Homo sapiens: one gene and its partners. The protein of the gene in region 1 purifies or fractionates together with the protein of each later gene. This does not show direct contact. Each region holds a gene or a part of one and is shown in the gene's direction. Other genes may lie near its edges.

What was found.
Region 2: the proteins of TCTN1 (region 1) and ERFE purify together in Homo sapiens (affinity purification with mass spectrometry; one large-scale study listed by BioGRID and IntAct). This does not show direct contact.
Region 3: the proteins of TCTN1 (region 1) and METRNL purify together in Homo sapiens (affinity purification with mass spectrometry; one large-scale study listed by BioGRID and IntAct). This does not show direct contact.
Region 4: the proteins of TCTN1 (region 1) and ART5 purify together in Homo sapiens (affinity purification with mass spectrometry; one large-scale study listed by BioGRID and IntAct). This does not show direct contact.
Region 5: the proteins of TCTN1 (region 1) and CSPG4 purify together in Homo sapiens (affinity purification with mass spectrometry; one large-scale study listed by BioGRID and IntAct). This does not show direct contact.
Region 6: the proteins of TCTN1 (region 1) and GUSB purify together in Homo sapiens (affinity purification with mass spectrometry; one large-scale study listed by BioGRID and IntAct). This does not show direct contact.
Region 7: the proteins of TCTN1 (region 1) and MAN2B2 purify together in Homo sapiens (affinity purification with mass spectrometry; one large-scale study listed by BioGRID and IntAct). This does not show direct contact.

What each region holds. Positions count from the first base shown.
Region 1 is NC_000012.12:110,647,530-110,649,930, forward strand, and holds the end of TCTN1 (tectonic-1 isoform 1 precursor), read left to right. Parts: intron 1-219; coding exon 220-363; 3' UTR 364-364; intron 365-1,156; exon of another isoform or gene 1,157-1,513; 3' UTR 1,514-1,880; downstream 1,881-2,401. Other genes in the region: HVCN1 (voltage-gated hydrogen channel 1), read right to left, coding at 1,881-1,946. UniProt on the Homo sapiens protein: Component of the tectonic-like complex, a complex localized at the transition zone of primary cilia and acting as a barrier that prevents diffusion of transmembrane proteins between the cilia and plasma membranes.
Region 2 is NC_000002.12:238,157,587-238,161,769, forward strand, and holds the start of ERFE (erythroferrone precursor), read left to right. Parts: upstream 1-1,383; 5' UTR 1,384-1,421; coding exon 1,422-1,619; intron 1,620-4,007; coding exon 4,008-4,130; intron 4,131-4,183. UniProt on the Homo sapiens protein: Iron-regulatory hormone that acts as an erythroid regulator after hemorrhage: produced by erythroblasts following blood loss and mediates suppression of hepcidin (HAMP) expression in the liver, thereby promoting increased iron absorption and mobilization from stores.
Region 3 is NC_000017.11:83,092,616-83,095,622, forward strand, and holds the end of METRNL (meteorin-like protein isoform 1 precursor), read left to right. Parts: intron 1-551; coding exon 552-611; intron 612-1,640; coding exon 1,641-1,960; 3' UTR 1,961-2,507; downstream 2,508-3,007. UniProt on the Homo sapiens protein: Hormone induced following exercise or cold exposure that promotes energy expenditure. Induced either in the skeletal muscle after exercise or in adipose tissue following cold exposure and is present in the circulation.
Region 4 is NC_000011.10:3,639,193-3,643,424, reverse strand, and holds the start of ART5 (ecto-ADP-ribosyltransferase 5 isoform a precursor), read left to right. Parts: upstream 1-1,432; 5' UTR 1,433-1,562; coding exon 1,563-1,619; intron 1,620-3,053; coding exon 3,054-3,783; intron 3,784-4,232.
Region 5 is NC_000015.10:75,681,849-75,685,348, reverse strand, and holds part of CSPG4 (chondroitin sulfate proteoglycan 4 precursor), read left to right. Parts: coding exon 1-130; intron 131-436; coding exon 437-613; intron 614-2,307; coding exon 2,308-2,506; intron 2,507-2,607; coding exon 2,608-2,742; intron 2,743-2,889; coding exon 2,890-3,056; intron 3,057-3,500. UniProt on the Homo sapiens protein: Proteoglycan playing a role in cell proliferation and migration which stimulates endothelial cells motility during microvascular morphogenesis. May also inhibit neurite outgrowth and growth cone collapse during axon regeneration.
Region 6 is NC_000007.14:65,960,184-65,962,698, reverse strand, and holds the end of GUSB (beta-glucuronidase isoform 1 precursor), read left to right. Parts: intron 1-1,635; coding exon 1,636-1,802; 3' UTR 1,803-2,015; downstream 2,016-2,515. UniProt on the Homo sapiens protein: Plays an important role in the degradation of dermatan and keratan sulfates.
Region 7 is NC_000004.12:6,620,189-6,623,862, forward strand, and holds the end of MAN2B2 (epididymis-specific alpha-mannosidase isoform 1 precursor), read left to right. Parts: intron 1-999; coding exon 1,000-1,097; 3' UTR 1,098-3,174; downstream 3,175-3,674.

The sequences.
Region 1 (2,401 bases):
TCTTTAAAATTCTCATGAAAATTATGATATTCACGTGTTAATCAGACACCCTGGTAAAATTGTTTCTCTCATCCAAGTTAATGGCCAATTAGTGCTCCAGGACCTATCAGATTCATGAACTGACAGTAGTTGGGTGAGGAAGAGAATGAAAAGTGTCTCATTGTTGTCATTCTGGGAGCACACTGGAGGGTGGGCCTTGCATCTCTCTGTTTATTACAGGCCAACTCAGGAAATGAAAGGACGATTCTTATTTCCACTGCGGTTACTTTTGTGGATGTGTCTGCACCTGCAGAGGCAGGCTTCAGAGCTCCACCAGCCATCAATGCCAGGCTGCCCTTTAACTTCTTCTTCCCGTTTGTTTGACGTAAGTGAGGAAACTACGCCCCTCCTCTGAGGTCATCCCCTTTGGAAAGTGTGCACGTGGGGCTAGAAGTCCCTAGGGGATACTGCATTTTATACTTTTTGAGGGTCTCGCTTTGTTGCCCAGGCTGGAGTGCAGTGGTGTGATCATGGCTCACTGCAGCCTTGACCTCCTGGGCTCAAGCAATCCACCCACCTCAGCCTCCTAATAGCTGGGACTACAGGTGCACACCACAACACCTGGCTAATTTTAATATAGTTTGTAGAGATGGGGTCTTGCTGTGTTGACCAGGCTGGTCTCAAACTCCTGGGCTCAGGTGCTCCTCCTGCCTCGGCCTCTGAAAGTGCTGGGATTACAGGTGTGAGCCACCATGCCTAGCCTTATTATACTTCTAACCTTTGAGGTTGCCTCCAAACCAGCACACTGCCCTTCTCCACTCCCTTCCTGCCTTTTTTCCTTTTGGAAATGTTATTCTATCTGACTTTTGAATGGGGAATATGCTTAACACATAGGTCATAGATGATAGAACCCAAAAAGTCTTTGGGGAGATGGTAAAGAACATGAACAGGACTTGAAGCAGCAGAGGCAAGGGGGATTTGGCCAGTTCATTCATCCCCTGCTTTGAGTTATTTATTTTAAAAATACTCAGTTCAGGTTTTTTCCTTTTTGGGTCCGGTTGAAATGAGTACAAAAAAATAGCAAAATATTAGATAAAATCATGCGAGAAGAGCACACAGCCCTTACAAGGGGATCTTCCCCCAAATACCTTGTTAATTATAGTGGAGTCTTGGGTCTAATTGCCATTTCTGCACCAGGCACTGTAGCTAGCTTGCTCTCCGACTGGCAGGCTGGTATGGGTGCCACAGAGGAAAGAATACAGTAGGAGGGTCCAGGGAAAAGAGAGAGTTTATTTTATACAGTAGTTGTTTTATTTTATACAGTAGTTGTACAGTAATTGAGGAAAAATGTTGTCAGGTGGCAGAAAACAATGGAGCCACCTAGAAGCTGGCTGATGCAGCTGGGGCACACAGAGGAGGGGCCTGGGTACCCCTTTTGGGGAAACTGAGACGAAGCTATTTAGAACAGCTTGAAAATAAGAGACTTTTCTAGAATGGGGTGGCAGCTAAAGTAGCTTCTTTTTCTTTCTTTCAGAATGCTCAGATGCATCAGTTCCTTAATATACACGTGAAATTTGAAAACTGTACATTCGGTGAGATTAAATTTTATATACAACTAGCAATTGTCCAGCTTTGTTGCTCATTTTCAATTAAGGCTAAAGTGTTCAACATGAGAAAATGTGATACATTTGATACAGTGTGGGGTGGGAGTGGATGGGCAGCTCTTGGTGGTACTGGACCTTCCACAAGGCTGTGTCCACCCAGAATCCATGCTGGCAGGAGGGAGGCAGAGGTATCAAACCAAACCTCTCACCAAGCGGCCCAGGAGGGGCAGCTGTTCCTCTCGTGACAGCACAGGCCCATGAGACAGTGTCTTCTTTTTGAGGGGAGCTGGTCCGGGTCTAGTTCACTTCACCAAGAAGTCCATGCTGTCGCAATAGTTTGTTAAGTCTTTCAATTTCTTGTTCCTATTGCAAAAGCAGACAAACACTGGAATTTACTTTGAGCCTCGCCAGGGATGTGACAATCAATCATTCAGTGAGCCCCAGGCACAGGACCACAGAGATGAATGAAAGCTACGCTGTTTGTGGCATTCAGTCTGCTGAGGAGACTGCTACAATCAGATAGGCTTCACTGAGCAGCAGTGACAGCAGTGAGAAGACAAACGTGGGGGACCTGGCAGAGCCCTGGGATGTGGGGGTGGGCACAGCTTCAGGGAGGATGTGACGCCTGGGCTGGATCTGAAAGGACAAGGCAGGCTCAGCCCAGGGAAGGGCGCTCTAGGTGCATGAGCAGCGCTCTGCTGCAGGCGGGTGCTGCGGCAGAGGCCAGCTTCCCAGATATCTTTTTTTTTTGAGACAGAGTTTTGCTCTTGTTGCTCAGGCTGGAGTGCAATGGCGCGATCTTGGCTCACCACAACCTC
Region 2 (4,183 bases), on another chromosome or scaffold:
AATAATTACCTTCTGATCCCATGCTTTTCCTAAAGTATGAAGTATTTCCTGGTTTCCCCACCTGCCAGGCATGAGGCCAGCCAGGTGGAACATCGCATGAGTGGCCAGAAAAGGCAGGCGACAAAGGCCAGCTTGCATCTGAGGACGGAACTTGGCCCATCCCCAAGCCTGGGGGGCACCACCTGCGGCTGCTGGTGCCCCTTTCAGTCCCTGCTGCCACATCCTGTGAACCAGGACAGGGTAAGGCCTCCTTTCCCCAGCGGGCTCTTCTCAAAAGAGTTCCCCGGGAACAGCAGCCCTCGGTGTGAGTGTAAGGTACTTTTCCAGCGGAGCCTTCTCCCGTTCTTTAACAAAAAGCACTGTGTACCCACCAGGGGCAGGTGCCTCGGGGGTGGGGCAAGCGAGCCAAGTGTGCGACCCTCCTCGGCTTAGCGTCCAGTGGTGGGGCAGATAGTCAAAAGGGCATGCGATATAACAAAGCCAGGGGTAGGGTGGGGCTGGGGCTGGCTCTTTCCTGGTAGGGCCGCCCAGAGGCCTCTCTGCCACCTTCTCCGAGGCCTGCAGGGTCTGGTCCACCTCTGGGGGCACTGATTCCGGTGGGCGGTGGGCAGCCTGGCTTCCGGTCTGGTCTGCCCCCACACCCCCGCTAGGGCACGATAGGGGTCAGTTCTCCCAGCCCAGGCCCCGCTCAGCCCCACCAGGGCAGGGCGGCTGTCCTGAGTTGTTTCTTGGCTCCCTGCGTCTTCTGGGTCCCGGCAGGTGCGACAGGTGGGGAAGAACAGTGAATCCCTGCGCTCAGAGCACGCCAGCCATGGACGGAGGGCGGCCTGGAAAGGGGAGTTCCCGCCTGGGAAAGGGGCGCTGAGAAGGGGCCCTGAGGGTCTCCCGGCTCAGATTTGCTCCACCTGTGTCATAGAGGCCTGGGCCTTGCGGGGCGCAGCCAGGAGAATGGGGAGGGGGTACCTCGGGGGTCCCTGCAGAGGACGTGGGGGACAGAGCGGGGAGAAAGGATGCCTCGAGCCGTCTGGGAGGAGGCAGCGCCTGGCTCCCCGCAAAGAAAATGGGGTCGCGAGGGCCGAGGGTCCAGGGCTGGGAGAAGGGGCGCCTCGCTCCCCAGGAAGCAGAAGCGCTGGACAGCGCGAAGGAGGGATCCCAGAACCAGGAGTTGCAGGGGGGACGCGCCCAGCAGGGGAACACCCCTCGCTCTCCCTGCCCTGCCCCGCTCCCCGTGCCCCCTCCCCCACTCCCCCTCCCCCGCCCGGACACTCCCCCCATCCCCATGCAGCGCGCACGGGAGCCGGGAGGGGGCGCGGGCGGGCGCGCGGTCTCGGGCGAGGCGGGGGATTCAAGCGCGTTATAAGGCGAGGAGCCCGGGGCGTCCGAGACGCCGCGCTCGGAGCCGCGAGGGAACCGCCGCCCGCATGGCCCCGGCCCGCCGCCCCGCCGGAGCCCGCCTGCTGCTCGTCTACGCGGGCCTGCTGGCCGCCGCCGCCGCGGGCCTGGGGTCCCCGGAGCCTGGGGCGCCCTCGAGGAGCCGCGCCCGCAGGGAGCCGCCGCCCGGGAACGAGCTGCCCCGGGGCCCCGGGGAGAGCCGCGCGGGGCCGGCCGCTCGTCCGCCGGTAAGACGCCCGGGCCCGCTCCAGACCCAGCCCGCGCCCGCACGCCCCGGCTCGGGGCGGCGGGAGGCGGACGTGGAGGCCGAGCCCGCCCTCACCCCCGAGGGCTGCTGCATCGCCTGGCACCGGGGCTCCGGGGCTCCGCAGAGACTCAGGGCCGTGTAGACGCCGCCCTCAGCCCGGCGGGGCAGCCTTGACTTTGGCTTTGGGGTAGTTTGACTTAAAGCAAGGTTCTACTAGGTCGGCGAAACCCCCCTTTTCTTTTGGGACAGAAGGAAGTTGGGAAATAGATAAAGTGTAAATAACTTGATTTGAGGAAATTGGGAAGAACGCATTTGTAAAAAGTGTAAGCGAATTACTGCCACCGCCCCCAATCTATTTGGTGCAATTATCTGGAAAACAAAAAGTGTTTTCCTGCGGATCTGGGGTCGGGGGGCTGTGCAGGGTGGGGAATGACATGTGGCTTTGAGTCAAGTGATCAGGTGGCTTTTGGCCGTGAGTGGGTGATCTTGAGCTCTGCCCTGCCCCCTCCTCTCCAGGGTTTTGGAGCCTGGACTGCTGAGCAGAGGGTGGTCCGGTTGGGGAGGTGTGGCCCAGGCCTGAGGAGGGGAGAACTTCAGAGGAGCCCTCAGTGTGGCCGGGCCTTGGGTCAGGGAGACAGGGCTGCCCCAGGGAAGCCGGGGTGGGCGGCCGGTGCTGTTTATTCTGAAGATGCTCAGGGGCAGTAGAGGGGAGAGCCAGGAACGCATCTACTAGAGAGGACAGGGGTGCAGCCAGGCCTGGGGTCCCCCAGAGTTCTCTATCCCGGCCCCATCACACCCAGCCACTTCCCAGGGACTGAAGGCACCCCCTCCCCGTGCAGTTGGCCAAACCACCCAGGTGGGCACAGCAGCCAAATGTCAGGGCACTGTCAGCAGGAGGCAGACGGGGCTCAGGGGCTTCCAGGTGGAGTTTTGGCCTTGGACCCTGTTTGTGGGGGACACAGTGACACCAGAGGTCCTCCCAGGCTCCAAGGCTTGTTTCTGAGAGACCCCTTGTGGCTGGAACCAGGGCAGCTGCCCAATACCCACCCCCATTGCTGGGGCCGTCTCCTGGGACGCCACCTTCTGCCTGTTACAGCTCTACCTGCAAACCACACTGGGGTCAGGGTCCGGCCACAGGCCACAGGTGCAGCTGGGAGGGTCAGCTGGGCACACCCCTCCTGGCCGGTGTGCGGCATCCTCGCCCCATGTTTCCACGGAGGGCACACAGGAAGTGGAAGAGGGTCCTGGGAGGGGGTAGAGGGGAGATCAGCCAGCAGGTGGTGCAGTTGACCCTCTAAGGCACAAGGAAGCACTGAGCAGCGCTGAGGGCCCTGGGCCCCTGAACCCTTTCTCCGCCCAACCACAGGCTCCTCGGCACCGCAGCCCCCATCTTCCCACCACAACACCCTGGCCTGCGCATTGGTCAGCCAGCTCCCAAAAGAAGGCCCTGCATCCCCCCAGATCAGCCAGGAACCAAAGGCAGTGACTTGGCAGCCGGCTTTGTCTCTGATAAAAGGGCCCAGTCAGCTCTAAAATCCCAGGGTCCTTCCGTCAGCCCCCAGCGTCAGCACCCATGACCTCATCTAAGCCCTCTTGGGCCGGTTTCCTTCCCAGCTGGCAGCCTTGCCTGGAGCCCAGATAGCCCAAGGCCTCTCCCAGGAAGGTCCCTCCCAAAACTGTGCTCAGTGTCAGCATCAGTCAGGATGCAGCGCGGACAGGAATGGGAACTTCCGGAAGCATCACTGTCCATGTGTCAGTGTCTCAGAAGTGCTGAGGAAATGAAAGTCTCACACAGAGGCCTCGCGTCATGACAGCTCGCCTGGTCCTCTCCCCCACTGGACTGTAACCCGAGGCAGCTGTGAGAGCTGAATTTGCCTCCTTAGAACTTCTGACACTGGGGGAGGATGGACAGAGGAGGGTTGGCTAGTAGTTGGGCTCCCTGATAATCACAGTTGCTTCTTCCTGAGCACCTATGGGTGCTCCAGTGGTCGGATCCTCCTGGTGACTGGAGGACGGTGTGATCACTGCAGCTCCTCTGGAGGAAGGAGGCCCAGCAGTACGGGGATTCACCCCGATATCCAAGCCCTGCACCCCATTTTCCCTCCAGGCATCTTGGGTCTGCCTCTCCCATGAGTGCCAAGTCCAGGCCGAGGTGTGGCCCGTTCCCTAGGAGTCATCCTCCACGGGCCGGGGGAGAAGCTGTGAGGGGTTGGGGCCCCTTTGGGAGCTGCCTTTGAGGGCACCACAGGTGACAAGGACCAGGGTCCCAGAGTACAGAAGGCCACACAGTCACCTCCTGCAAAGTGTCCCACCTGCTTGGTAGGAGCCCAGTGAGGCCAACCGCCCTGCTGGGCTGGCTGTGTTCCAGGAGCCCACCGCTGAGCGTGCACACAGCGTCGACCCCCGGGACGCCTGGATGCTCTTCGTCAGGCAGAGTGACAAGGGTGTCAATGGCAAGAAGAGGAGCAGGGGCAAGGCCAAGAAGCTGAAGGTGAGGCCGGCATCCCGTCAGTGCCAGGCCGTGGGGGGTTCCGCCTCCTCGCT
Region 3 (3,007 bases), on another chromosome or scaffold:
GCTGTGGAGGTGGGTTGGGGGCGACTCTGGGAGGTGGGGGTGCTCCCGGCGCCGTGGGCTGTGGAGGTGGGTTGGGGGTGACTCTTGTCTGGTGGGTTCGGTTCAGCCCCAGTGGGCTTTGCATTTGCAACAGGCACGTGAGCGATTTCTCAGTGAGTCCGGCTCAGCCGCACTGAGGAGATAAGTGGGGAAAGAGCACAAAGACCCCTCCCCACGAAGGCCCTGGGACATGGCCGGACTGAGGGTCTTGCTCTCGGACATGTGCCCATCATGGCCGAGGTGCAGGTGCCTTTGGTCCAGGTGGGGCCGAGGGGTCCCCTGGGTGAGACCCCGTCGTGGTCGAGGTTGTGTTTTCTGTCTCCCGTGCTGCCGGCCCCTCCAGCACGTGCCGCCAACTCACATTTGAAGTGGCGTTGGTCACAAAGGTGCCTTGACGTGGACACCCTCCCTGACTTGGCTTTGCTGAGTGTGAGGATCCTTTGACGGTGGTGGGCGGCGTTCCAGAGCCTGTCCCGTCCAGGCTGCTTCCTGACTCTGCCTTTCTTCTCCAGCGCCGTGCCGTCCCTGCAGTGACACCGAGGTGCTCCTAGCCGTCTGCACCAGCGACTTCGGTGAGTGTCTCCTCGGCAGCTTCTACCTCCTGTGCTCCTGGTTTCTGCCACATGGAGCTGTTTGGGCCCAGGAGTCCCTCTTCAGGGCCCAGGACAGCCTTCCGGTGCTGCGTGGACCCTCCTGGAGGGGCACACGCTGTGGAAGCCCTGGGCTCGGCCCTCCACCAGCCCTGGGGACAGGGACGCCACCGCCCACACTTGGAGGGAGCTGGGGGTTGTTTTGGTGACTGTCAAACATTTTCCCATTTTGTAAATGAGATCACTGCTCTTCGAGGGGACTCTTGAAGTCCACTGTCTCCCAGCAGCTCTTCTTGCTGAAGTGCTTTGTAAACAGCATTTTATCAGCAGCCCAGAGCATCCTTGGCGTTGGACACTCCTTGCCCCCCACCAGAGTTCACGCTGTTCCAGGCCTGAGGCCCCCGGCGGCTCTGCGGCTCTGCAGGAGGAGCTTTGGGGTCCCAGGGCTCCAGCCCCTTTGCTTGTGGCGTTTGCACAGACGCCCTGTGGGAAAGGTTTGGCCTCCCGTCGTGTGGTGCCGTGGAAGCCATGTCCTGCAGGCCCCGGCTCTGCACCCCACCTCCAAGCTCAAGGACAGGCCCCTTCTCACTGCTTTCCCGGCCCCTGGCATGGAGTTGGGGCTGGGCAGGGGTCTCCAAGTGTGGCGCGAAGGCTGTCCCCATGCCCACCCTCTCCTGTGAGCTGCACCGGGTCTGTCTGATCAGGACACAGAACTGCAGGGGCACCCTGTGTATCAGCTGGACTTGTTTGTTCTGTTTTCCCATTTAACAGGTCTGGCCCTTGGTAGAAAGGGCACCTGTTCTCTGACGATGTCTAAGTATCTGGGACACCCCTTGGCAGCTTTCTGCTGTTACATTGTACTTTTCTCTGGGAATTTCCACGCTAGATGGCAGAGTCGGGGGTCAGCTGCCCGTTCCAGTGCCCATCGATGCGGGGGCAGGGGGAGGTGCGGTGGTCTTGCTGTGTGCTTGCCTTTGCTCACTCCCTGTCCCCATCTCCTTCCCCGCACAGCCGTTCGAGGCTCCATCCAGCAAGTTACCCACGAGCCTGAGCGGCAGGACTCAGCCATCCACCTGCGCGTGAGCAGACTCTATCGGCAGAAAAGCAGGGTCTTCGAGCCGGTGCCCGAGGGTGACGGCCACTGGCAGGGGCGCGTCAGGACGCTGCTGGAGTGTGGCGTGCGGCCGGGGCATGGCGACTTCCTCTTCACTGGCCACATGCACTTCGGGGAGGCGCGGCTCGGCTGTGCCCCACGCTTCAAGGACTTCCAGAGGATGTACAGGGATGCCCAGGAGAGGGGGCTGAACCCTTGTGAGGTTGGCACGGACTGACTCCGTGGGCCGCTGCCCTTCCTCTCCTGATGAGTCACAGGCTGCGGTGGGCGCTGCGGTCCTGGTGGGGCCGTGCGGTGAGGGCCGCGCGCTGGGAGCCGCATGCCCTGGGCCCAGGCCTGACCCTGGTACCGAAGCTGTGGACGTTCTCGCCACACTCAACCCCATGAGCTTCCAGCCAAGGATGCCCTGGCCGATTGGAAATGCTGTAAAATGCAAACTAAGTTATTATATTTTTTTTTGGTAAAAAAGAAATGTCCATAGGAAACAAATTCCCGTGTCTTAAAACGCCTTGGTGTGCCGTCTGATACTGTTCTCTAAAGACGTTAGGAGTCACGGCATCTGGCCTGCGGTTGGGTGAAGCACTGGCCGTTGGGCACAGTGGATGTGTGAAAAGGTGCCATTCAGAGTTGTTATTCTCATGACGGAAGTTTTGGAGCCAAATAATACGTTTTTTATTTTCATTTTATTTTTAAAGGATGAGCTTTGGTCCTTTTCAGGCCGCCGGTTGTTTCCGTTCCCGAGAATAAAGACGAGGATCCGACCAGCCAGAAGCCGGAGTCTGTCTTTCGCCAGGTCCGGTGCCCACGGCCCGTGTTCAGGGCCTCGCTGGACGTACCCCAGGGCGCCACCCTGCCTCGGCAGACACGCTTGCTCCGCCCGGCGACTGTCCCTCAGCGCCTGCTGCTGCATTTCCATTAATGCAGGTCCTGCCCTGTGGCCCCAGCCTGCCCACAGTGCAGGGGCCCACAGCTAGTCTCTAGACGCCCAGGAGCTGGTCTGAACCCAGGTTGGTGACCCCATGTCCCCAAAGGATGCGGCTACCAGAACAAATCACCACCGACTGCGGGGCTGAAACAACCTCGTTCTCTGAGTTCCTGAGGCCACAATCCAAAGTCACGGTGTGGGCAGAGCCTCTCCCTCCAGGGCTCCAGGGGAGAACGCTTCATCTTCTCCTCAGCCTCCAGGGGTTCCAGGGAGGACCCTTCGTCTTCTCCTCAGCCGGGGGCGACCCTTCGTCTTCTCCTCAGCCGGGGGCGACCCTTC
Region 4 (4,232 bases), on another chromosome or scaffold:
CTGCCTCAGCCACCCAAGTAGCTGGGATTACAGGCCCCTGCCACCACGCCCGGCTAATCTTTGTTGGCCAGGCTGGTCCCGAACTCCTGACCTCGTGATCCTCCCACTTCAGCCTCCCAAAGTGCTGGGATTACAGGCGGGAGCCACTGCGCCCTGCCCTGGAGCTGTTTTTCTAACAAGCACTCAGAAGCACCTCCCTCCCCACCCTCCTCCAAGCCTGGACCCACCGTATGTCTTCCCGTTTGGTCTACAGAAAGGATTCTGGGAGATAGCAGGATTCTAGGTGGAGGAAACTTTTTATTTGGCTGACACTCTGAGGGGATGGGGGGACAGGGATGGGGAAAATTAATGAGCCAGACCAGGATGGATTCCTTTGGGTAGCTCTAATCTTTCGTGCCCACCTCAGCCCCAGCAGGCAGCATTTCTCAAATCCTAGCTTTCGGCGACCCTCCGGCCGCTGGGGGAAGGAGGGGTGACAACCCCACCTCCTCCTGGCTCTGGCTGCTAGGAAGCTCTTCCCTGAGTTACCAATTCCTCCGCTGGCCCCTTCTCCCATGACCTCTGACGGGGCATCCAAAACTCAGAGCCAGGTTATTTATAGATAAGCCCAGAGGAGGTGGGGGAAAGGCCAGTGTTTACAAACATGGGTCACCTGAGTCTGAGCGGCCACGAGAGCGGTCTGGGGGAGGGGCGAGACCGGACCCTGTGGATCTGCGACCAAGGGCTCTGTCTCTGGCCCAACCCCACTGAAGGCGAATGGGGAGAGGGCCCAGAGCAGGCAGGGAGTGGGCGCTGCTCAGATGCTGGAGCACGTGGCCCAGGGTGTGGGCCAAATGCAAACTGTATGCAAATCGCAGTGCTCCGGGGGCGACCTCTCGGCCGGCGGGACCCCCGCGGGGCCCCTGGCCTGGTGGGCCGGGGACCAGGGGCCGACCGGGTCAGGGCCCGCCTGAGGGAGAGGCCGAGTCTCACAAGTTTCCTCCCCATCACTCACAGCCAAAGAGGGTCCCGCAGAAAGACCCCGCAGGCCTTGAGAAAGGGAATTGCTCCTCAGTCCCTGCCCTGGCGCGCCCGCTCCCGGCCCCGCGTGCGGCGCTGGGAAAGGGGTGTCGGGTTACCAGCGCGGGGGCTACAGTTAGCCTCGAGAACCTTTGCTTTCAGCCGGACTCCGGACTCCTCCGGGGACAGCGCAGCGCCCGCCAGAGCCCTCGGCGCTCCCTCCCGCTGGCGGCTTCCGCAGCCTTCAAGTGGGTCCTCCGCCCCCGGCCCTCCCCTCTCAGGCGGAGCCAAACTGCGGCCCCGCCTTTACAGTCTCGGAAAGGTCCCCAGACTGGAGGCTCTGAGGAAGGGGTGTGGGGAGTCGGGGGCGGAGACTTGGGGCGGGGGGCGGGCAATAAACTCCCAGGCCCCGCCCACGCCCCGCCGGGGCCCTAATCCTGGACCCGGGATCCCGTGCGCCTGGAGACAGGGTCCAGATCTGCCTCCAGCCCCTCGAAACCAGGACTCCAGCACCTCTGGTCCCGCCCTCACCCGGACCCCTGGCCCTCACGTCTCCTCCAGGGATGGCGCTGGCGGCTTTGATGATCGCCCTCGGCAGCCTCGGCCTCCACACCTGGCAGGTAACTCCAGGAACCATCTCCTAGCCCCAAGGGGGACATTAAGGGACAGACCCTGAGGAAGTGGACCCGGGGCTGACTCCTCACATCCCTCTCCCAGGGACTCTTCCCTAGGATTCCACTCTTAACTCTCTTCCTCTCAGGAACCTCCATCTCTGCAGGGAGCCCCAAGTTCCCATTCTGTCTCCTAGAACCCCCATCTCCATCCCTCTCTGGATGCCTCCAACGTTCTCCTCCCCACCTCTCATCTCCCAGCGCAGGCACAGCCCGGCAAAGCCTCCTTGGGTTACCTGTGTGCTGCAGTCCTGGCAGCCCGTCCCAACCAAGGCTTGGCCTCCCCACCACCCCTACCCCAAATGTGGGTACAGAGCAGGGGAGGACTCAGGCGTCTCAGAGCTCACAGTGATTTGGTGTGGTGGCTGAGCACCTACCTGCAAGGGCTTCCTGCTGGATGAGAGGGAAAGAGAGCCCGAGGAGAATGGGGCTGGGGGTTAGGCAGCTGGACACTGGCTGTGTGTAATATTTGCACATCACCTGCCTGCCAGATCTTACAGCCGGAAAAGTGCTTGATAGTCATCTAGTCCCACCTCCCACCGACTGCAAGAACCTTTCTAATGACAGGATGACCCCTTTTAGGTTGTACAGAAGTAATGCTCTTTATGCTGTCTTCATAATAACTGTGAGGTTGGAAGTATCCTCAAGTCCAGAAAAGTTATGACACTTGCCCAAGGCCTCACAGCTAATAGGTGGTAAAGTCAAGATTTCAGCCTGCGCGCGGTGGCTCACTCCTGTAATCCCAGCACTTTGGGAGGCTGAGGCTGGTGGATCACTTGAGGTCAGGAGTTCGAGACCAGCCTGACCAACATGGTGAAACCCTGTCTCTACTAAAAATACAAAAAATTAGCTGGGCGTGGTATTGCGCACCTGTAATCCTAGCTACTTGGGAGGCTGAGAGAGGAGAATTGCTTGAACCCGGGAGGCAGAGGTTGCAGTGAGCCAAGATCGTGCCATTGTACTCCGGCCTGGGCAACAGAGCGAGACTTCGTCTCAAAGAAACAAACACAAAAACAAATTAGCCAGGCATGGTGGCATGCACAGGTAATCCCAGTTAGTTGGGAGGCTGAGGTGGGAGAATCACTCCAACCTGGGAGGTGGCGCTTGCAGTGAGCCGAGATCTCACCACTGCACTCCAGCCTGGGCAACAGAGCAAGACTCCATCAAAAAAAAAAAAAAAAAAAAAAGATTTCAGTCCATGTCTGACTGACTCCAGTGCCTGTGTTATTTAAGCCTCTTATTGGGCCCTTGCCAAATTGCATATACCTGATATTTAGGGATAGAAATGAGATTCTGTGTTTCTGGATGGGTTTGCCCCCAGGACCCATGTCCAGTGCTCTGAACTTATGCTCTTTTCGGTGTGGCACCTCTTTTGCTCCACAGGCCCAGGCTGTTCCCATCCTGCCCCTGGGCCTGGCTCCAGACACCTTTGACGATACCTATGTGGGTTGTGCAGAGGAGATGGAGGAGAAGGCAGCCCCCCTGCTAAAGGAGGAAATGGCCCACCATGCCCTGCTGCGGGAATCCTGGGAGGCAGCCCAGGAGACCTGGGAGGACAAGCGTCGAGGGCTTACCTTGCCCCCTGGCTTCAAAGCCCAGAATGGAATAGCCATTATGGTCTACACCAACTCATCGAACACCTTGTACTGGGAGTTGAATCAGGCCGTGCGGACGGGCGGAGGCTCCCGGGAGCTCTACATGAGGCACTTTCCCTTCAAGGCCCTGCATTTCTACCTGATCCGGGCCCTGCAGCTGCTGCGAGGCAGTGGGGGCTGCAGCAGGGGACCTGGGGAGGTGGTGTTCCGAGGTGTGGGCAGCCTTCGCTTTGAACCCAAGAGGCTGGGAGACTCTGTCCGCTTGGGCCAGTTTGCCTCCAGCTCCCTGGATAAGGCAGTGGCCCACAGATTTGGTAATGCCACCCTCTTCTCTCTAACAACTTGCTTTGGGGCCCCTATACAGGCCTTCTCTGTCTTTCCCAAGGAGCGCGAGGTGCTGATTCCCCCCCATGAAGTCTTTTTGGTTACCAGATTCTCTCAGGATGGAGCCCAGAGCTTGGTGACTCTCTGGAGCTATAATCAGACCTGTAGCCATTTTAACTGCGCCTATCTGGGTGGTAAGCTGTGCATGGGGGAAGCAGGACTGGCAGTGTGGGTGAAATAAGCCAGGATGTCCTTACACAATAATCCCCGGGGCCTTCGGGAGACCCACTTGGTTAAAGGGGAAATGAGGGCTGGAAGTCAGCTGGAGTTGCTGTCCTCTGTGACTCAGGTTTTTTGGGGTCCTATAAGTGTTTTCTAGATTCGTGAACATTCTTAGATGATTCTATATGTCCTCAAAAGGGTCCATCTGCTACATGGTCTAATAGACCAAAAGAACCTGGTTAAGGAGATTAGCAAGCAGCAGAAAGAGCCAAGGGGACTGCTTCAGGTCTCAGGGGGGCCCTGGGCTCGATGGGGCTGACAGGGCACGTATGTGCCATTCCCAAGTGCTAAGGCAGGGAGAGATGGAAGAGTGACTGGGTCTTGGGTGGGAAGAGGGATGGAAAGGCAATCTGGAAAGAGT
Region 5 (3,500 bases), on another chromosome or scaffold:
TGTCTCCGGGCCCTACTTCCCCACTCTCCTGGGCCTCAGCCTGCAGGTGCTGGAGCCACCCCAGCATGGAGCCCTGCAGAAGGAGGACGGACCTCAAGCCAGGACCCTCAGCGCCTTCTCCTGGAGAATGGTATGGCTGTGAGAGAGGCCCAGGGGCTGCAGCCCAGCTCTGGGGGCAGAGTGGAGGGAGCCCTGGGGACTCCCAGTCTGGGGGTTATACACAGAGAGGAGACGGGGAGTCACATTTCAGAAGCACCTATGCTTTAAATACCATATATCTTTTCTTCCTCACAACTCCTCGGAGCCAGAACTTATGGTCCCCATTTTCTACCAATGGAAAATGAAGCCCTAAAAGAGTCAGTCTCCTCCTGCACCCAAAGGCAGGGCATGAAGGGTGCTGCTGGGGCCTGACTGCCAGCCCTGGGCCTGCCCCTAGGTGGAAGAGCAGCTGATCCGCTACGTGCATGACGGGAGCGAGACACTGACAGACAGTTTTGTCCTGATGGCTAATGCCTCCGAGATGGATCGCCAGAGCCATCCTGTGGCCTTCACTGTCACTGTCCTGCCTGTCAATGACCAACCCCCCATCCTCACTACAAACACAGGCCTGCAGGTGAGAGCATCCCTGGGAACACCCCCATGTCTGCTTCGAGAAAGAGGCCAGCGTCCCCTACTTCGCGGCTCAGAGCTCCCCCAGCTCTGATCCTCAGTTTCCTCCTCTGCAAAATGGGGACGCTGCCACATGCCTCACGGGGTTGTTGGAAGGAGAGAAGTGAGATTGTGCTGAAATAGAACACAGGTGGGAAGTTTTTTTATTGGATGTTTGCAAGTATGGTAGGCAGACTTCTGAGCGGCCACGGGTGGCTCTGCTGTTCCTTCTTCTGTGGCTAAGGACCAGAACATCTGACAGAATCACTTACAAGCCCTTAAGGGCAGGCATCAGGGCGGAAGCTGTTAAGTTTCCCACCTTCACCCAGCAAGTGAAGGCCATGGCTTGGCTCCCCAAACTCCTGCACAAGGCTGTTCCACGCCCAGCAGGACAGTGCAGGGAAGGCCCTGGTGAACTTCGCTCAGGCAGAGGTAAGGGCCCCACTCTGCAGGTGGAAGTTGAGGCCCAGACGTGGGATGGAACTTCTCCATGGTTGCAAAAGTAGTTCTGGTGGAACAGAAAGGGCATGGCTTTACAAAGCCCACATGGCAGGGCTTTGAACCCCAGCTTCTGGGGTGCATCCTCCCCGGTCAGCAGGAGCCACTGAAGTTTCCATAAAGGGCTGACTTGGGCTGTCTCTGGCATGGGGTGCCTGGGGCGGGGGTGGGGGCGGGGCCTTGGTGGTCTAGGATGTGCCCGTAGCGGGTGGCCTGGTGGTGCGGAAGCCGCCAAAGAGTGGGACACAGTGCTCTGGAACCACAGGCCAGGACGGCTGTGTGGCAGCACAGCCACCAGGTGGTGCCATCTACCTGTGTTTGCTCCAGAAGCCTAGTGCTGGGGTCCTGCCCCGCAACATTATGGCCCCTCCTGCCAGGGCTGGGCCTGAGGGCTCCCTGGGGCCGGGGGAGGAAGCCCAGGAATGCCAGAAGGCTCTGTTTTCCGGGCATGTGAGTCCCACTGCAGCTCTGCCCGCAAGTAATTGACCCAGCAAGACTGGTACCAGGACCTCAGGAACAGGCACCTGCTCTGCTTGCAAGTGGGAGGCCTGAAAAAGGGGTCCCCTTTGCCCAACATAAGGAGGGCCCCTAACTGCTCTGGAAGCACCTGGGCCCATCCCACGCTGATTCTGTGCTGCAGAACAGTGCCAACCATCAGCCCCCCACTCTCTGCGCCACGCACCCCTCCCTCAGCTGGAAGGAGGGCCCATTTCTAAAATCACCATTCCCACCTGTGCCCGGCCCCGGCCAGGCACACACGGAGGCTCTGAAAGGAGACCCCTGTCCCACCAGTGAGACAGATTAGGGAGCACTGTTGGTCAGCGCTGGGGGTTTCTGGGAGTGAGAACTTGGTGAGGGTAAGAGCTGGGGCCTTCCTGGGTAGGGGACATAAGCTGGCCTTGAGGGACACACAGGACTAGGGCAGATGGAGAGCAGGGAGGCTGGGCCTGGAGGGTGACCTTCCCTGGGGCCTTCCCTGGGGTGACAGGGAAGGTGAATGCGGGAGGCCCTTTGTGCAGGGGAGCCAGAGTGGCGCCAGCCTCGATGCCACCCGAGGGGCTGAGCCGCAGCAGGACTGGAGCCCTGGTGGCAGCCCAGGGCCGGGGAGGAAGGGGTGGGTGAGTGCGGCAAGGCAGAACCTTCACAGGCCTGTGTTCCCAGATGTGGGAGGGGGCCACTGCGCCCATCCCTGCGGAGGCTCTGAGGAGCACGGACGGCGACTCTGGGTCTGAGGATCTGGTCTACACCATCGAGCAGCCCAGCAACGGGCGGGTAGTGCTGCGGGGGGCGCCGGGCACTGAGGTGCGCAGCTTCACGCAGGCCCAGCTGGACGGCGGGCTCGTGCTGTTCTCACACAGAGGTGGGTGCTGAGGGCCGGGCCTCGGGTTCCTGCTGCCCACGGGGGTGCCCTGAGATGGGGAGCCGGCTCGGGCCAGCTGGACCCAATGCCCCTGTCCCCAGGAACCCTGGATGGAGGCTTCCGCTTCCGCCTCTCTGACGGCGAGCACACTTCCCCCGGACACTTCTTCCGAGTGACGGCCCAGAAGCAAGTGCTCCTCTCGCTGAAGGGCAGCCAGACACTGACTGTCTGCCCAGGTGGGTGTGCTGATCATGGGCATTCCTGGGTGCCAGGAGCTGGGGCGGAGCTGAGGGTGGCATGCCAGGGTCACGCTGCCTCTTTGCAAACACAGGCCTGGACCTGGCTCCCAGTCAAAATCTGATATCCCCTTTTGCCTCTGGCAGGGTCCGTCCAGCCACTCAGCAGTCAGACCCTCAGGGCCAGCTCCAGCGCAGGCACTGACCCCCAGCTCCTGCTCTACCGTGTGGTGCGGGGCCCCCAGCTAGGCCGGCTGTTCCACGCCCAGCAGGACAGCACAGGGGAGGCCCTGGTGAACTTCACTCAGGCAGAGGTAAGGGCCCAACTTTGCAGCCACCACTCAGATGCCCCCAGCCTCAGGTGGCCGCTGTGCCATGGACATCATGTGGACATGGATGCCAGCTCCAGCATCACTGGCAGCAGACGTTCCCGGGCCTGCCATTGTCCAGGCGCTAGTGTCCTGTCCTCCAGGAGCCGCCAGGCTGGCAGGGCAAGTTCATGTTCCCAGAAGGAGGGAGAAGGATGCAGAAAGTCGGGGATACAGGGCCCTAGAGCAGGGCTGGGGTCTTGGGGTATAGCTTCCAGAAGGAAGCTACAGCCGGACCCGAGGGTCTGGAGAGGGGGCACCATGTGGGGGCACTAGTGGTACCCCAGTAGCTGATGAGGGGCAGTGCTTGGTGGGGGATGGAGTTGGACGTGAAGCAGCGGCTGGGCCTGTGGGCAGAGGTGTGAGCCTGGGGCTCAGGTCAAGTGCCAG
Region 6 (2,515 bases), on another chromosome or scaffold:
GTTTCTCCATGTTGGTCAGGCTGGGCTTGAACTACCGACCTCAGGTGATCCGCACATCTGGGCCTCCCAAAGTGCTGGGATTACAGGCATGAGCCACCATGGCCAGCTGAAACTCGGTCTTAAAAAGAAAAAAGAAATGAGCTGCATCACGTTGGGCAAGTCACCTAAGCTTTTCATAAGCCTGTCCAGTGGGGATAATGCCACCTCCTTGTTGGTGTCGTAAGGGCTGCATTTGATGAAGTACTTGGCGATGCCTGTGTTCACTTATGGAAGAAACAGTCTTGAACCTTTTGGTGGGGAAAGCCCCCTTTCCATTTAACATTTCCATTTAGTGGTGGTCTTACTGGGGACAGAGAATGTCCTGAGAGCACAGCCCTGACAGGTCGTTGCCAGCTGTGCTCCTCCACCAGGCTCAGCTCAGGCCTAATGACCACCAGTGGTGGGTGCTGCCAAGCTGGACGTCAGCCCCGGCGGACTTTGAACTCCATGAGTAGGTCCCACGCAGGGACCTGTGGCTGGTCAGGACCCTGGCTCCCACTAGGCGCTATCTCTTCAGAAAGGCCCAAGGCTTTTCAAGGGTAACTGTCCCAGATACCCCTAGCCCTCTGCCTACCCAGTTACCAGACAGCTGGGTACCCAGCATGTAAACCTTAGTTTGCAAATAAAAGATAAACTTTTAGTGCTTTTTTTTTTTTTGGAGATGGAGTCTCACTCTGTCGCCCAGGCTGGAGTGCAGTGGCACAATCTCAGCTCACTGCAACCTCTGCGTCCTGGGTTCAAGCGATTCTCCTGCCCCAGCCTCCTGAGTAGCTGGGACCACAGGCACCCACCACCATGCCTGTATAATTTTTGTATTTTTAGTAGAGATGAGGTTTCACCATATTGTCCAGGCTGGTCTTAATCTCCTGACCTTGTGATCCGCCTGCTTTGTCCTCCCAGAGTGCTGGGATTACAGGCATGAGCCAATGTGCCCAGCCAGTTTTTGTATTTTTAATAGAGGCGGGTTTCCTCATGTTGGCCAGGCTGATCTTGAACTCCTGACCTCAGGTGATCCACCTGCCTCAGCCTCCCAAAGCACTGGGATTACAGGCGTTGGCCACCACACCTGGCCACTGTTTTGGGTTTTTTTCCCCTAACAGACTAGAAAACTAGAAATTAACACACCAGGGAACCTGGGTGTTTGGGCAGAGCAGTGGTATTTAAATATTTCAACCCATAAATTGTCACTTCAGAGCAAGCATCCTGAAACTGTAAGAGGACATTTGGCTGAGCATGGTGGCTTGTGCTTATAATCCCAGCACTTTAGGGAGGCTAAGGAGGGCAGATTGCTTGAGCCCAGTAGTTTGAGACCAGCCTGGACAACATAATGAGACCTTGTCTTTACTAAAAAATAAAAATAAAAGATTACCGGGCATGGTGGTGCTGGAGAGGCTGAGGCAGGAGGATTGCCTGAGCCCAGGAGGTTGAGGCTGCAGTGAGCTATGATTGTGTCACCGCATTCCAGCCTGGGCAACAGGGAGAAAAAAGAAAAAAAAAGACATTTCTATTTAGTGCCTACCTTAGCTCCAGACTGGTTCTAACTTGACCCATCAGAAGACATCTGAATCGCTTTGTGTCTTTTTTTTTTTTTTGTAGCACCGACGAGAGTGCTGGGGAATAAAAAGGGGATCTTCACTCGGCAGAGACAACCAAAAAGTGCAGCGTTCCTTTTGCGAGAGAGATACTGGAAGATTGCCAATGAAACCAGGTATCCCCACTCAGTAGCCAAGTCACAATGTTTGGAAAACAGCCTGTTTACTTGAGCAAGACTGATACCACCTGCGTGTCCCTTCCTCCCCGAGTCAGGGCGACTTCCACAGCAGCAGAACAAGTGCCTCCTGGACTGTTCACGGCAGACCAGAACGTTTCTGGCCTGGGTTTTGTGGTCATCTATTCTAGCAGGGAACACTAAAGGTGGAAATAAAAGATTTTCTATTATGGAAATAAAGAGTTGGCATGAAAGTGGCTACTGAAAAGCATCTGAAATCATTTCTGTGCGTCGTGCTGTTTTCAGAGCTTTAACTGTGTGTGGACTTTTGAGAAACTGCTGCTCCAACACCCCCACCACGTTCAGAGCAGCTGGTTCCCGAGGGCGTCTGCAGGAATAGCCCCATGGTCCTAGGGCCACCGTGTTTGTGTAGCAAACCAGGCCAGCCTCGACAGGGAGTGAGTAGAAGACTTTCACAGCTGCTGTTCGACTCCTCAGATGAGCTAAAGTCCCACATGTACCAACAAATTCATAGAAACGCTGTCATTGTTGCAGCACTTAACAGGGTCTGTGTGCCAGTTTCTACATAGTTAAGCTGGCAGTGTCTGAATTGGAAGGTTAGAGGTAACTGGTTCTCCCAGAACATTGTTTTGACCTCAGCCATAGGGTCTTGACAGAAATGGACAGATGAGTGTAAAAGCCTATTGGCTTTATCATAACGGATGCCACTGAATGTGACAGGACCTCCTTAAACAACTTTGCCTACAA
Region 7 (3,674 bases), on another chromosome or scaffold:
TCCCAAATCTACTACAGTCGGTTAAGAAAGGCTTTGGGTTAGTCTCTGCCTGCCAGGGCTCCACACAGGCGTGTGTGTGCACTTGTACGTGTGCACACGCAGACCACACGCCCTGCCTGTGCCCTGGGTGACAGCTAGGGGCCCAGGGGCTTCTGCCCACCTTGGCCCTGCTGACCTCAGCCCATCAGCCGGTCCCTGCCTCATACGACATGTGCCACCGTGAGCTCCTGCACTACAGGCAGCTTCCAGGCTCCACTCCCTGTCCGCACCATGCCCTCTGCCTGGGACGCACAGGTCCCATTCACTCTGGCCAGCACCTGCTCAAGCTCCCCAGGATGCCTCCCCAGAGTCACCAACCAGGCCAAGTGCCTCCTCCACTCTCCTGGCCCCAGGGGTTTCTTCTGTCCTGTGCAGCTCGTTGTCCACTACACACAGCATGGTGGCGGGTGCATGGTGCACGCTCAGTTGGTGGTGGGAGGAAGGAAGGGACGGAGGGAGGGAGGGAGGGAAGATGATGTTGGTTGGAAAGAAGGAAGGAAGATGGATGAGTGATAGATAAGTGGACGGCTCCCTCCCAAGATCGAAGCCCAACCCCAGGGCATGCCTTCAGGGGAGCCTGGTGAGGCAAGGGCAGACTCACCAGATGGTCTCAGAAAGCTCTTGGGCTTTGAGGGCAACACCCATGAGGAATTGAGGCCACTAGGGCCAGGACCAACCTATGAATTGCCCTCAGGGTGGGCAGAAACGCCAAGAGGCCCACAGGAGTCCTGGCAGAAGGGGATGCCATAGGCCGTTGCCACGGTGGGAGCCACAGCAGACTGTAGCCAGGTGCAGTGTGGTGAGAAGGAGGCTGGGAGCCACAGCAGATTGTAGACAGGTGCAGGAGGGTGAGAGGGAGGCTGGGAGCCACAGCAGACTGTAGACAGGTGCAGGGGGTGAGAGGGAGGCTGGGAGGAGGCATCCCAGGCCACACTGGACAGATCACCTCTGTTCCCCTAGGTGACACCACCTCTCCCTCGAGGCCACCAGGAGGCCCCATCATCACCGTCCACCCAAAGGAAATCCGGACGTTCTTTATTCACTTTCAACAGCAGTGAGCCCTGGGCAGATGCCCCGGCCCCAGGGCTTCCCCCAGGAACTCCATGTAACAGAACAGACCCAGGACAGGGAAAAGCAGTGCGGAGGGATGGGACTGGGGAGTCAGCTGCTCATCTGCAGGCTAATGGCAGGAAATGGTCATATTTGGGGTTTTTCCCTAATTTTTTTAAACAAAAATTACATTACAAGATCCAGGTTCTTCCCCCCCACACTCAATCAAGCCAGCCCTCTCCTCTTCTGTCACGTAAAGGATATTTGGCACACTCATGCGTCATTCATTCACAAAACACAAACCCAGGACTTTCTGCCTAAGGCAGAGCACAAGACTCACAGCAGCACCGAAGCGCATCTGCCGTCCGGGCCCTGCCAGGCTTGCCAGGCTGCCAGTGGTAACTGTGGACCTACTGCGTGCCACGTGTTTTCATAGACTCATCCCATGCTGGCAACAGCCCTGCAAGGGGCTTGGCTCTGCCACAGGGCAGGAGAGGAAGTTGTAGCGCCTAGCGAGAGTTCCAGCCCCAGACGCCCACCTGTGCCTCAGGGCACCGCCTGCCGAGCAGAGAAGGCACAGCAGCCGTCAGAGTCCATGAGAGGTGAAACCACACAGCAGGGATGTCCAATATCAGAACTATTAATATCAATAAAAGTATAACCTTCCCAGGTCTATGCCCAAGAGAATTGAAAACATCCATCCACACAATACCTGTGCTCCCGCGTTCATAGCAGCATTACTCAAAAGTCAAACGGTAGCAACAACCCAAATGTCCATCCACAGATGAATTAAGACATGAAGTGTGTTCTGTCCATACAATGGAATATTATTTGGCCATAAAAAGGAAGGAAATTCTGACGCATGCCACAGCCTGAGTGAATCCTACAAATATTACGCTAAGTGAAAGAAGCCAATCACGAGTTTATGTGAAATGTCCAGAATAGGCAAATCTGTGTATCAGAGACAAAGCACATTGGTGGTTGCCAGGTACTGGAGGAAGAGAGAAGAGGCATGACAGCTAACAGGGACGGGCTTTCTTTGGAAGATGATGAAATTGTGGAATGATGGTTGCACAACTTTGTGAATATACTAGAAACCAATGAATTAAAAACTTTGGAAGATGAATTTTATGGTCTGTGAATTATATCTCAATTTTAAAACTTTTTTTTTTTTTTCCCGAGACAGAGTCTCACTCTGTCGCCCAGGCTGGAGTGCAGTGTCAAGATCTCAGCTCACTGCGACCTGCACCTCCTGGGTTCAAGCAATTCTCCAGCCTCTGCCTCCCGAGTAGCTGCTACTAGAGATGCACCACTGCGTCAGCTAATTTTTGTATTTTTAGTAGAGACGGGGATTCACCATGTTGGCCAGGCTGATCTGGAACTCCTGACCTCAGGTGATCTGCCTGCCCCGGCCTCCCAAAGTGCCAGGATTACAGGCGTGAGCCAATGTGCCCGGCCTAAACCGTTTTAAAGAGTAAACTGTAAGATGTAGGAAATTATTTGGTACTCTAGGGCTGAAGGAAAGTACCCAGAAAGGACCAGCTTGGAAGGAGTCAGACCTCTGGACAACGTGCAGTTTGGCCACCAGACAGCAAAGACAGTCTCTGGTTTGGCCAGGCAGGAGCTGGGCTGGAGTTGCTGACCAAGCAATAGGCCACCCCTGTGAGGTGGGGTCAGGTGAGCAGCCACCAGAGGCATGGATGTGCAGTGGGAGGTTGAGGCACAAGGAGTGAGGCAGGAGCCCTTTAGAGCATGTGGGCTGCATGAGGCTTGGTTTCTGTGTCAAGAAGACTATGGAGGCTGGGCAGTGGTTCATGCCTTAATCCCAGCACTTTGGGAGGCCAAAGCAACCGGATCACTGGTGGTCAGTAGTTCAAGACCAGGCTGGCCAACATGGTGAAACCCCATCTCTACTAAAAATACAAAGTTAACCGGGTGTGGTGGTGTGCGCCTGTAGTCCCAGCTACTCGGGAGGCTGAGGCAGGAGAATCAATCACTTGAACCTGGGAGGCGGAGGAGACCTCCGCCTCTGCACTCCAGCCTGGGTGACAAGAGTGAGACTCCGTCTCAAAAAAAAAAAAAAAAGGAAGACTACGGAGGCCAGGCGTGGTGGTTCATGCCTGAAATTCCAACACGCTGGGAGCCCTAGGCAGAAGGATCGCTTGAGCCCAGGTGTTCCAGACCAGCCTCGGCAATATAGTGAGACCCCATCTCTACAAAAACTATTCTTTAGACGAGCGTGGTGGTGTGCACCAGTGGTCCCAGCTACTCTGGGGGCTGAGGTGGGAGGCTCACTTGAGCCCAGGAGGTCGAGGCTTCAGTGAGCCATGATCATGCCACTAACTCCAACCGGGGTAATAGAGCAAGACCCTGTCTCAGAAAAAAATAAAGAAGACTATGGAAATGTTATCCCCAGCGCAGCCAGGCTGTAGAAAAATCATGTGCACTGAAAGTACCATCACCCATGCTGACCATCCCCGTCCAGAACAGAAACAGCAAGAGAGCCACTTCCCCCTGCGGTCCCTCCAGCACCCAGCACCCTCAACTGGGAAGAGTGAGAAGAATATAGATGACAGGGGAAAACC